2 separate regions of the Homo sapiens genome follow, and region 2 is linked to region 1. The links come from fine-mapping of genetic effects on gene expression. A gene starts in region 1. The other region holds a variant in brackets. All regions are shown on one strand. Distances are from middle to middle.

What was found.
Region 2: its variant is fine-mapped to the expression of ACP2 in whole blood (TOPMed, PIP above 0.99).

Annotation. Positions count from the first base shown.
Region 1 is chr11:47,246,153-47,251,530 of GRCh38, forward strand. It overlaps ACP2 (acid phosphatase 2, lysosomal), which reads right to left and starts at 2,662. Exons shown (of 11, transcript NM_001610.4): 1 at 2,524-2,662; 2 at 1,886-1,981; 3 at 1,489-1,575. The coding sequence starts at 2,637. It also overlaps a transcript of NR1H3 not described here. RefSeq lists enhancers at 2,128-2,217, 2,348-2,857 and a silencer at 2,938-3,105.
Region 2 is chr11:47,277,248-47,282,625 of GRCh38, forward strand. It overlaps MADD (MAP kinase activating death domain), which reads left to right. Exons shown (of 37, transcript NM_001376571.1): 6 at 918-1,031; 7 at 1,752-1,832; 8 at 4,328-4,506; 9 at 5,134-5,369. Among named protein-coding and RNA genes, the nearest start is that of MADD-AS1, 7.8 kb to the left of the region's middle. The variant T/A (reference allele first, on the strand shown) is at 3,322.

The sequences.
Region 1 (5,378 bases):
GTGCTGAGTCAATCAGTAAGGCTCTCTGGTCTGTCTGGTTTCATAACAACACCTCTCTCCCTGTCTAGATCAGGGTCCTTGGGGCAGAAACTGGCTCCAGTGACGACCCTTAGAGACCAGGGAGAAAAAAATAAGATAAAGGGCTGGGCCTGGTGGCTCACACCTATAATCCTAGCACTTTGGGAGGCCAATGCAGGAGGATCGCTTGAGGCCAGGAGCTCGAGACCAGCCTGGGCAACATAGTGAGACCCTGTCTCTACAAAAAAAAATTTTTTAATTACCCAAGTGTGGCGGGCACTTGTAGTCCCAGCTACTTGGGATGCTGAGGCAGGAGGATCACTTGAGCCCAGGAGTTTGAGGCTGCAGTGAGCTATGACTGAGGCATGTGCTACAGTTTGGGTGACAGAGTGAGACCCCTTTAAAATATATGTATATATTTTGGGCCGGGCACGGTGGCTCATGCCTGTAATCCCAGCACTTTAGGAGGCCGAGGCAGGCGGATCAGCTGAGGTCAGGAGTTCAAGACCAGCCTGGCCAACATGATGAAATCCTGTCTCTACTAAAAATACAAAAATTAGCCAGGCATGGTGGCACACACCTGTAATCCCAGCTACTTGGGAGGCTGAGACAGGAGAATCGCTTGAACCTAGGAGGTGGAGGTTGCAGTGAGCCAAGACCATGTCACTGCACTCCAGCCTGAGCAACACAGCAAGACTCTGTCTCAAAAAAAAAAATTTTTTTTGAAGAGCTTATTCAGAGATAGTGGCTCATGAAAAGGGAGGAGGAAACTGGGGAAGGACAAGCTCAGGACAGAGCTGGGCCTTAAGAGAACAATAACAATGTCTATGGATTCTTGATACGGCTGAGGCTGACAGTGGTAATCAGAGGAACAGCTTCCCCCATTCCTGGGGTGGGGCGAAGACTCAAGGAGCAGGCACACTCACCAGTCCTCCCTGATGTGCCCTAGGAATATAGCACGACCTGGCGCAGCAGACAGGGCTCAAAAACCTCATCTTGATCAAGAAAAGACAAGCCCTCTCTACGCATGTCTTCCCCGCTGTCTTTCATCTTGGCCCTGTCTGGTTTATCATTAGATACCCCCACAACATTCTAAGCTCCATGAAGACAGAGATCATATCTGTATGGTGCACAACTGAATGCAAAGTGCTAGCACAGTCCTTGGCCTTTAATAGGTACTCAATGTCTTGGATGGAAAGCCTGTGATTTCACAGTCAGAAACCACTTTGCCAGGCCCGCCCTTAAGTCCGAATTTGGATGCTTAATCAAATTTGCCTCATCCCAGCCAAGCAGGGGCAACTCAGCTCCTAGGGCTTTGTTCCAGACAGCTCTCAGATGTCTTTTCCTGTAGTTGTGACCAAAAATACAAGAAGGAGGCCAAAGTGCCCAGCCTCAGCCTTAGGCTCCCTGAGGGCAAAAGATGAGGGCAGCATACCTTGTTCCCCTTGCCTCTGGAGCTCCCAACCTTACCTCTTGCCGGTGATAAGAGGTGTTTAGGAAGCCGTGATAGCGCTGCCGCAGGGCCTGGCCCAGTTCCCAGTGCTGTAGCATCCCCTCCTGTGGGCAAACCCAAGGGTTAAGAGGGTCTAGAGGGAAGGGGTGGCTTCAAGCCCCATGGGGTTTAGGCCCTGTTGCTTTCCAGGTTCACGCTTTGCTGGAGTCAATTAATCTGATCCCAGAAGTCTTTCATTAAGTGGCCAGTCATGCACAGCAATATCATGGGCACAGAGATTAAGGTTATGAAATCTGGTCAAAGTCAGCACCCATATGGGAAAAGGCAGTTTAGTAGGACCCCAAGTTTTGTAGACTGCTCTAGACGTCGCTCATTCTGCAGCTCATCCTGAGGAAAGGCTGGCTTCTGACCCACCTTGGTTAACTGACCAAACCCCTGGGGCCATTCTTCTTCCTGATAGGGGTCCTTGGGATATGTCTTCACTGGTGAACGGTCTCCATGGCGGTACAGCTGAGAGAATAAAATGGTTTGCCTATAGGTCAGAAGCATCCCCTTGATAGGGACCCAGAGCCTACCTTTTGCCCCATGTTAGGGAAGGAAGTCTCATTCCCTCTGGGAAGCCTACTGGCTGCAAAAGACCCCAGCTAGGAGTCAGTCACTTCTTCCAGATTCCAGAGATTCTAACTTAGCTAAGCAATGCTACTGGAGACCATAGGCAAAGCCAAGGTACAGGTAGGAAGGGAAAAGAGAAGTGAAAGCAACGTATGTGGTGGGGACAACTGGGGAAAAAAGATAACCAAAGGCTTCTTTAGGGATGAGTCTTAACCATTCAACCACTTCCCTGTCTCAAGGCAGACTCACCCCGACGTATTCGGTCATCCTGACTCCCATAAGCCAGGGCTCCAGGTCAATCCTGAATCCAGCCTCCCAACTACCCAGGCCAGTCGTCCCCTCCTAAACCAGCTGTTCCTTCCCGAGATCCTCGACCTCCACCAGCTGGCCTTTGCCCTTTTAGCTTCAGGGAAGTCTTTGGTGAGCCCATCTCTCATTACCAAGGTAACGAAGCGCAGACTCCGGGCCCGGGTGGGCGGCATCACCACCAGGTTCACGCCGAGAAGGAGCTGGAGGAGAGCCGCCCGGCTCCAGCCGGACCGCTTGCCCGCCATCACCGTTGTAATCTATGCAGCAAACAAGCTGGAACCCGCTGGGTGGCACCTGCAAGCAGCCGCCCGGACGCACCCGTAAGGACACACGCCGGAAGTGCGTTCGCCGCCATCTTACTTAGGGACCTGCTGGGGTGCGGGGAAAAGGCGCAGTCTCGGTGGGATTGCGTGCAGGAGGGTCGTGGTCTGGCTGTGGCGGAGGAGCATAAGAAGGTAACGCGACCTGGCGCGGCAGACAGGGCTCGAAGACCTCATCTTGATTAAGAAGGCCACAAATTCGCGTTTGCCTCTGCTCGGAGAAATCCCTTACCAAGGTGGCACTTGCAGTGGGCGGGACCATGTCTGGAGAACCAGCGTCCCCTCCAGGCTTGACCCCATAGCTAGATCGGGTGCAGAATTGAGGCGAGGGATGGGAAAGTAGAGGTCGCTTCTCTCCACGCCCCTGCCTTTGTGGGGAGATTGAGCCCTGGCCCTGTTCTCCAGGAGATGTTTTGCTTGGGGTGCAGGACACAGTATGTAAACAACCCTTTGGACTCCGTGTGTCCTTGAGGTTGCCCCAGTCTGGCCTACCGTTCCTGCCCTGCACAAAGCTTCAGTAGCCCTCTCACTTTCCCTTCCAGTCCTTTCCCTGTCCTCCCTCCCCTCCACTTCCAAGTTTTAGTTAATTAGAGTCAAGACGTCATGTCATGCCTCTTCCCAAAGGAGTTGGGTTGCACAGGATGTTCAGACTTTACAAACCCAAAGCACTGAATCCCTGGGGGAGGAATTTCAGACCAGTGGGGAGGTATTTTGAGGTAAGGGACAGGCGCATATCATAAAGTGGGAGTAGGTGGGGTTTCCACAGAATCAATGGCCCTCTTGGCATTGACCATTAGGATTCAGGTGCAGCCAGTTTGGCCTCAGGACTTTGTGACTCCTGTGACGGTTGCAGGTCAGATCATAGGTCCTGGGGATGCTTTGATTCAGATCTGCCTACTGGAAGCAAATCTCCTCAGATCTTTGGGAAACAAAACTGATCAGGCTTGGCCTGGGCGCCGTGGCTCACCTGTAATACCAGCACTTTGAGAGGCCGAAGCAGGCAGATCACCTGAGGTCAGGAGTTCGAGACCAGCCTGGCCAACGTGGCGAAACCCCGTCTCTACTAAAAATACAAAAAAAAAAAAATTAGCCGGGTGCAGTGGCGTGCTCCTGTAATCCCAGCTACTCTGGAGGCTGAGGCAGGAGAATCGCTTGAACTCGGAAAGCGGAGGTTGCAGTGAGCTGAGATCACGCCACTGCACTCCAGCCTGCGCGACAGAGTGAGACTGTCTCAAAACAACAACAACAAAAACCTGATTAGGCTTGGTGTGGTGGCTCACGTTTCTAATCCCAGCACTTTGGGAGGCCAGGGTGGGAAGATTGCTTGAGCCCAGGAGTTGGAGACCAGCCTGAGCAGCTTAGGAAGATCTCCTCTCTACAAAAAAAAGTTTAAAAATTAGCTGGGTGTGGTGGCACACACCTGTGGTCCTAGCTCCTCGGGAGGCTGAGGTGGGAGGATCACCTTCAGCCCAGGAGGTTGAGGCTGCAGTGAGCCATGATGGTGCAACTGCACTCCAGTCTAGATGACAGAGCAAGACTGTGTCTCAAAAAGAAGAAAAGAAAAAAAAAGATCAGGATTATCTGTCTTTATTTTGTCCTAGGACTCCAGATTCAATTATTTATATATACTTCAGGATTTAAACTTTGCTTCCAGAGTTGTCATGGAGGAGGCCAAGAAGCAAATAGAGTAAGAGCCAAAGCCTGGGTAGCCAAACAGTTCTTAACCTTCTTATTTAATCACAAGCCCCTTTATGAATCACATGAAAATTTTGCACCTCTCCTCCAGAAAAATGTTCACACATATAAACACACACATGGAATTTTGCATATAATCCCAAATGGTTCACAAAGACCATTTATTACAGGTTTCATAAATCAGCATCTCTGAATACCTGATTTAACCTAGTCCTCTTACTTTACAGCTTAGGAAACAAACCTAAAGAGAGGAAGTGACTTGCCCAAATTCACAGTTTGGGCATGGGCACAGTTTGAGAATGGATTAAAAGTCAAGTTTTGGCCGGGTGCGTGCTCACGCCTGTAATCCCGGCACTTTGGGAGGCCGAGGCGGGTGGATCACGAGGTCAGGAGATCAAGACCATCCTGGCTAACATGGTGAAACCCCATCTCTACTAAAAATACAAAAAGTTAGCCGGGTGTGGTGGCAGGTGCCGGTAGTCCCAGCTACTCAGGAGGCTGAGGCAGGAGAATGTCGTGAACCCAGCAGGCGGAGCTTGCAGTGAGCGGAGATCGTGCCACTGCACCCCAGCCTGGGCGACAGAGCAAGACTCCGTCTCAAAAAAAAAAAGTCAGGTTTTGTGATTTTCAGTTAAATAGTCTATAATGGGCTGCTTCTTGCAGGCTACTCAAACTGCATTACTAAACTGTAATTGGTGATCCCGAAATCCTTTCAATAAAGAGGTATCTGTCAAAGGAAACCTTTTCAAATTAGTTGGACTAAACGGGACCTAGGCCGGACATGGCTCACACCTGTAATCCCAGCACTTTGGGAGGACGAGGCGGGTGGATCACCTGAGGTCAGCAGTTCAAGACCAGCCTGGCCACCATGGTGAAACCCCATCTCTACTAAAAATACAAAAATTAGCCAGTCGTGGTGGCGTGTGCCTGTAATCCCAGCTACCGGGGAGGCTGAGACAGGAGAATCACTT
Region 2 (5,378 bases), 31 kb after region 1:
TATGAATTAGACACAGTAAGAGAGTAACAGTTTTCTCTTTGGGCATATATTTGGTGTTTTTTGGAGACAGAGTCTCCCTCTATCCCCCAGGCTGGAGTACAGTGGCACAATCTCGGCCCACTGGAGCCTCTGCCTTCCAGGTTCAAGTGATTCTCCTGCTTCAGCCTCCCTAGTAGCTGGGATTACAGGCACTGCCACCACCACACACCAAATAATTTTTTGTATTTTTAGTAGAGGCGGGGTTTCACCATGTTGGCTGGGCTGGTCTTGAACTCTTGACCTTAGGTGATCCGCCTGCCTCAGCCTCCCAAAGTGCTGGGATTACAGGCATGAGCCACCGTGCCCAGCCTCTTTCTACATATATTTGGCTTCTCTTTGGCATATCCCAATTGCCAGCATCAGTACCCTTGTGCTTTGGGGCCATTATTAAGTAAAATAAGGGTTACTTGAACACAAACGCTGAGATTGTGTGACAGTTGATCTGATAACCGAGATGGCTACAGGCTGGACACAGGGGTGATTCATGTCTGGGTGGGACAGAGCGGGACAGCATGAGATTTCATCATGCTTCTCAGAACTATTGTCCTGCACTTCAGATATGATCAAGCTGCAGTTTAAAATTTATGAATTGTTTATTTCTGGAATTTTCCTTTTAATATTTTCAGACTACAGTTTGCCTCAGTTAACTGGAATCACAGAAAGTGAAACTGTGGATAAGAAAGACTACTGTATACAAAAAAATGTACCATGTTACCTTTCAAAAAATCTGAAAAATTCTGAATTTTCAAATACATCTGGCCTCAAGAGTTTTGGAAGAGGGATTGTATCTGCATTTCCTTATCTAGAAGAATCCAGACTTGATAAGTGCTCATGATAGGTTTTGTCTTTGTTTCTCACCTTCTTTATCATTTCCACAGCTGCTGTTGGCTCCAACCCCGTACATCATTGGGGTTCCTGCCAGCTTCTTCCTCTACAAACTGGACTTCAAAATGCCTGATGATGTATGGCTAGTGGATCTGGACAGCAATAGGGTGAGGTTCTTGGCTGAGGCATTGTAGAGTCTAGAGGAGGATTGCATTCTAGACCCAGTCCTGAGATATCTGTTTCTAGATTCCTTTCAGGAACGTCCTAAGTTGTTGGATAATTTCTATTGCGAGACTTACTGAAACAAGTTTTTTTAAATGCTCCTTTTACCTTATTAGCCAAATAAACCCTTGGTTAGGTCTCAGAGAATTACAGGATTTATTTTTGCCAGAATTAAGTGACCCCCCACCATATCCTCCAAGAGCAGTCAGACAGTTGTGATCTGAGGGCCATTACATGTGGTATAGATCATCTCTTAATGGTTTCCCTGGGGTATAGTTTCCAGTAAGAAACTGTCTTTCAGTGCAGGCTTAATTAATTATATGACCATTCTGCAATGTGAATACATTCAGACTTTGGTGGGAAGCCCTTATGTGTGCTCATTGTAAAACTTAAAAAAAATAAAAATAAGCGTAAATAAAATAAGTGAAAAGAAAAACCATAATCCTTTTATCTAGAGATAATAACCAATAACATTAAGTTATATTTCATTTCAGATGCATATGTATGTCATATATGTGTGTACATATATCTTACTGTGCAGTTATATAATGTATATTCGTTTATATAATAATAATGTATATACGTCCTCTTATTTTTATTTATGTAAGTGAAATTCCTGAGCAATAAACTCTAAGGTCACGTCTTTTATCATTTCTCTGGTGCAGGTGATTGCCCCCACCAATGCAGAAGTGCTGCCTATCCTGCCAGAACCAGAATCACTAGAGCTGAAAAAGCATTTAAAGCAGGTAGGTGAAGAACGAAGGAAAGAAAGGGGAGTATTAGATGCTGTGGGATTCCTATAAGAAGACAGCTATTCTCAGAGCCAATTTCCTATCAAACTTCAAGTGGAGTAGTTTTCTTCACCCTGGATGGGCTTAAGAAAACGCGTATCCCATTTCTGGGTGGCAGAGTGAATTTCTGTTTTTGATTCCAATTCATTGTATGCTTTACCATCTTCTAATGCTTATGATGCTGTATAAAATAGCCCTTCACTCTCTGTTTCTTGTATGTGTGCCACTCTCTATGGCTTCAGAACATTTTCTCAGTCTTTTTTTTTTTTTTTTTTTGAGATGTGGAGTCTTGCTCTGTCCCCTAGGCTGGAGTGCAGTGGCGCGATCTCGGCTCACTGCAAGCTCTGCCTTCTGAGTTCACGCCATTCTTCTGCCTCTCCAGGAGCTGGGACTATAGGCGCACGCCGCCACACCCGGCTAATTTTTTTGTATTTTTGGTAGAGACGGGGTTTTGCCATGTTAGCCAGGATGGCCTCTATCTCCTGACCTCATGATCCGCCTGCCTCAGCCTCCCGAAGTGCTGGGATTACAGGCGTGAGCCACTGCGCCCGGCCGATTTTCTCAGTCTTGTTAGGTGGAAGTTAGTAGTGTGGACCGTCTGGCTGCTTTTATATTATCTTCTAGAGTTGATCCTGAGGGTTCCTTTCTTCAAAAATTCCTTTATTTGGCTGGGCACGGTGCCTCATGCCTGTAATCCCAGCACTTTGGGAGGCCGAGGCAGGTGAATCACGAGGTCAGGAGTTGAAGACCAGCCTGGCCATTATGTTGAAACCCTGTCTCTACTAAAAATACAAAAATTAGCCGGGCATGGTGGTGGACGCCCGTAGTCCAGCTACTCAGGAGGCTGAGGTAGAAGAATCACTTGAACCCAGGAGGCAGAGGTTGCAGTGAGCCAAGATTGCGCCATTGCACTCCTGCCTGGGCCACAGAGTGAGACTCAGTCTCAAACAAACAAAAAAATTCCTTTCTTTGAGTAATTCCTCACATCCATTTTTTATTGATTGATTTTCTTCTTCCTCTGCATGCTGAACACAGTACCTGAAGGTAACACATGACAAAGCTTCATTCCCTTCCTCTGCCTTATGTGTTGTACAGGAACACCAGTAGATAACACTGTGTTTATTTTTAGGAATCCCTGCTCTCATTTGAAGGGCCTTTAGAAATCTTTTTCTGTGTTGTCTGAAGTACTTAGTAGTATCTCTAGATGCTATGTTTGGGTTTAAATGGGTCATTGTGTTTCATCCCTCTCACCTCAGTTGCTTCATCACTGCTAATATAATATGATACCTTGTTACTGCAGAGTCTAGTGGGAATTTTAAGTTCAGAAAGTTCTCTAGCTGCCTTCACTTGCTGTGTTTTCAGTCTTGATGATTGCTTTAGTATGACTAATGAGATGGAGAGGTTAATAAATGGAATTATATTTAATTAAATTAATTAATTAATT[T/A]ATTTATTTATTTTGAGATGGAGTCCCACTCTGTCACCCAGGCTGGAGTGCAGTGGCACAATCTTGGCTCACTGCATTCTCTGCCTCCCAAGTTCAAGCGAATCTCTTGCCTCAGCCTCCTGAGTAGCTGGGATTCCAGGCACACACCACTGTGCCCAGCTAATTTGTTTGTATTTTTAGTAGAGCTGGGGTTTCATCATGTTGGCCAGGCTGGTCTCAAACTCCTAACTTCAGGTGATCCACTTGCCTTGGCCTCCCAAAGTATTGGGATTACAGGCATGAGCCACCGTGCCCAGCCAGAATTATATTTTAAATGTTTGTAGGAGCTAAGATCCTTGGACTCATTGATCCTGTGTTCTAACTCCTGCTATTCAAAGTGTGGTTTGTGAACCAGCAACATTAGCATCACTCGGGCTTGTTAAAGTGCAGGATCACTCCAGGCATATTGAATCGGGATCTGCATTTTAACAGCCTCCCCTGGTGATTCTTCTCCTCACTCACATTTGAGAAGCACTGCTGCTCTCGACCAGTGGTCTTCACGCTGCCCCATTGAGCCTCTGAGGGGCCGATTTAGCTTGGGAGCCCTGAGCATTTGAGGCTCTGCTTCCTGTGTCCTTCAGAGCAGCTCTGTTTTCAAATTTCCATTCTATATAATTTCACATAGATTCCAATTTTAAAAAACATTTAATGACTATAATAATTTTGCAAACGACTGTCGTGGACTTCAGATAAGATCAAGTTGCCTTGAGCTAGGTTGTCTTAAGATGGAGAGCTACATATTTCAAACTGTTTTCTAAAGGCTAGAATATTGGGATTTTTATTTCAAAGATGAAAGGTCTGAAATGGGTTGGCCGTGATTTGCAAATTAGCACCGTTCTTTGTTGCAGAACTTTTTGACCAGAGAATACGAGGTAGCAGACCTTAGGAAGGCCTTTTCCTTGGAGTTAAGATTGGCTAGCTGCCCAGGGACGTTCCTTGTGTAAGGAATTTTCTTGTTGTTCCACAGGCCTTGGCCAGCATGAGTCTCAACACCCAGCCCATCCTCAATCTGGAGAAATTTCATGAGGGCCAGGAGATCCCCCTTCTCTTGGGAAGGCCTTCTAATGACCTGCAGTCCACACCGTCCACTGAATTCAACCCACTCATCTATGGCAATGATGTGGATTCTGTGGATGTTGCAACCAGGTAAGACCAAGCCGACTGTATAATCACAAGTTCTTAAATTAATTTCTTTGCTCTCTAAGGGACCTTGGGGCAGACTATTTCTCTGAACCAGGGTTCCTTTTTTTTTTGAGATAGATTCTCACTCTTGTTGGAGTGCAATGGCATAATCTCAGCTCACTGCAACTTCCACCTCCCGGGTTCAAGTGATTCTCCTGCCTCAGCTTCCTGAGTGGCTGGGATTACAGGCGCCTGCCACCACGCCTGGCTAATTTTTACATTTTTAGTAGAGACGGGGTTTCACCATGTTGGCCAGGCTGGTCTGGAACTCCTGACCTCAGTTGATCCACCCGCCTTGTCCTCCCAAAGTGCTGGGATTACAGCCGTGAGCCACCGCACCCAGCCCAGGGTTTCTTTATGTATAAAATATATACTATATTTGGTTGTTATTTTCCACCTTAGTAAAATCAAAGTGAAGAAATAGTAAACCACGTGCTCAGGATGAAGAGGGGGCTGATGATTCTTTAAGATATCTCTCCCCTTGATGTTGGAAGCCTGTTAAGTGATGGCTTTGGGAGGTGTTCTAAGACTTTGGATCATGGGAATCCTTACCCTATGGGTCTCAGATTATCTCATCATCTGCTTCCCCAGGGTTGCCATGGTACGGTTCTTCAATTCCGCCAACGTGCTGCAGGGATTTCAGATGCACACGCGTACCCTGCGCCTCTTTCCTCGGCCTGTGGTAGCTTTTCAAGCTGGCTCCTTTCTAGCCTCACGTCCCCGGCAGACTCCTTTTGCCGAGAAATTGGCCAGGACTCAGGCTGTGGAGTACTTTGGGGAATGGATCCTTAACCCCACCAACTATGCCTTTCAGCGAATTCACAACAGTGAGTCTA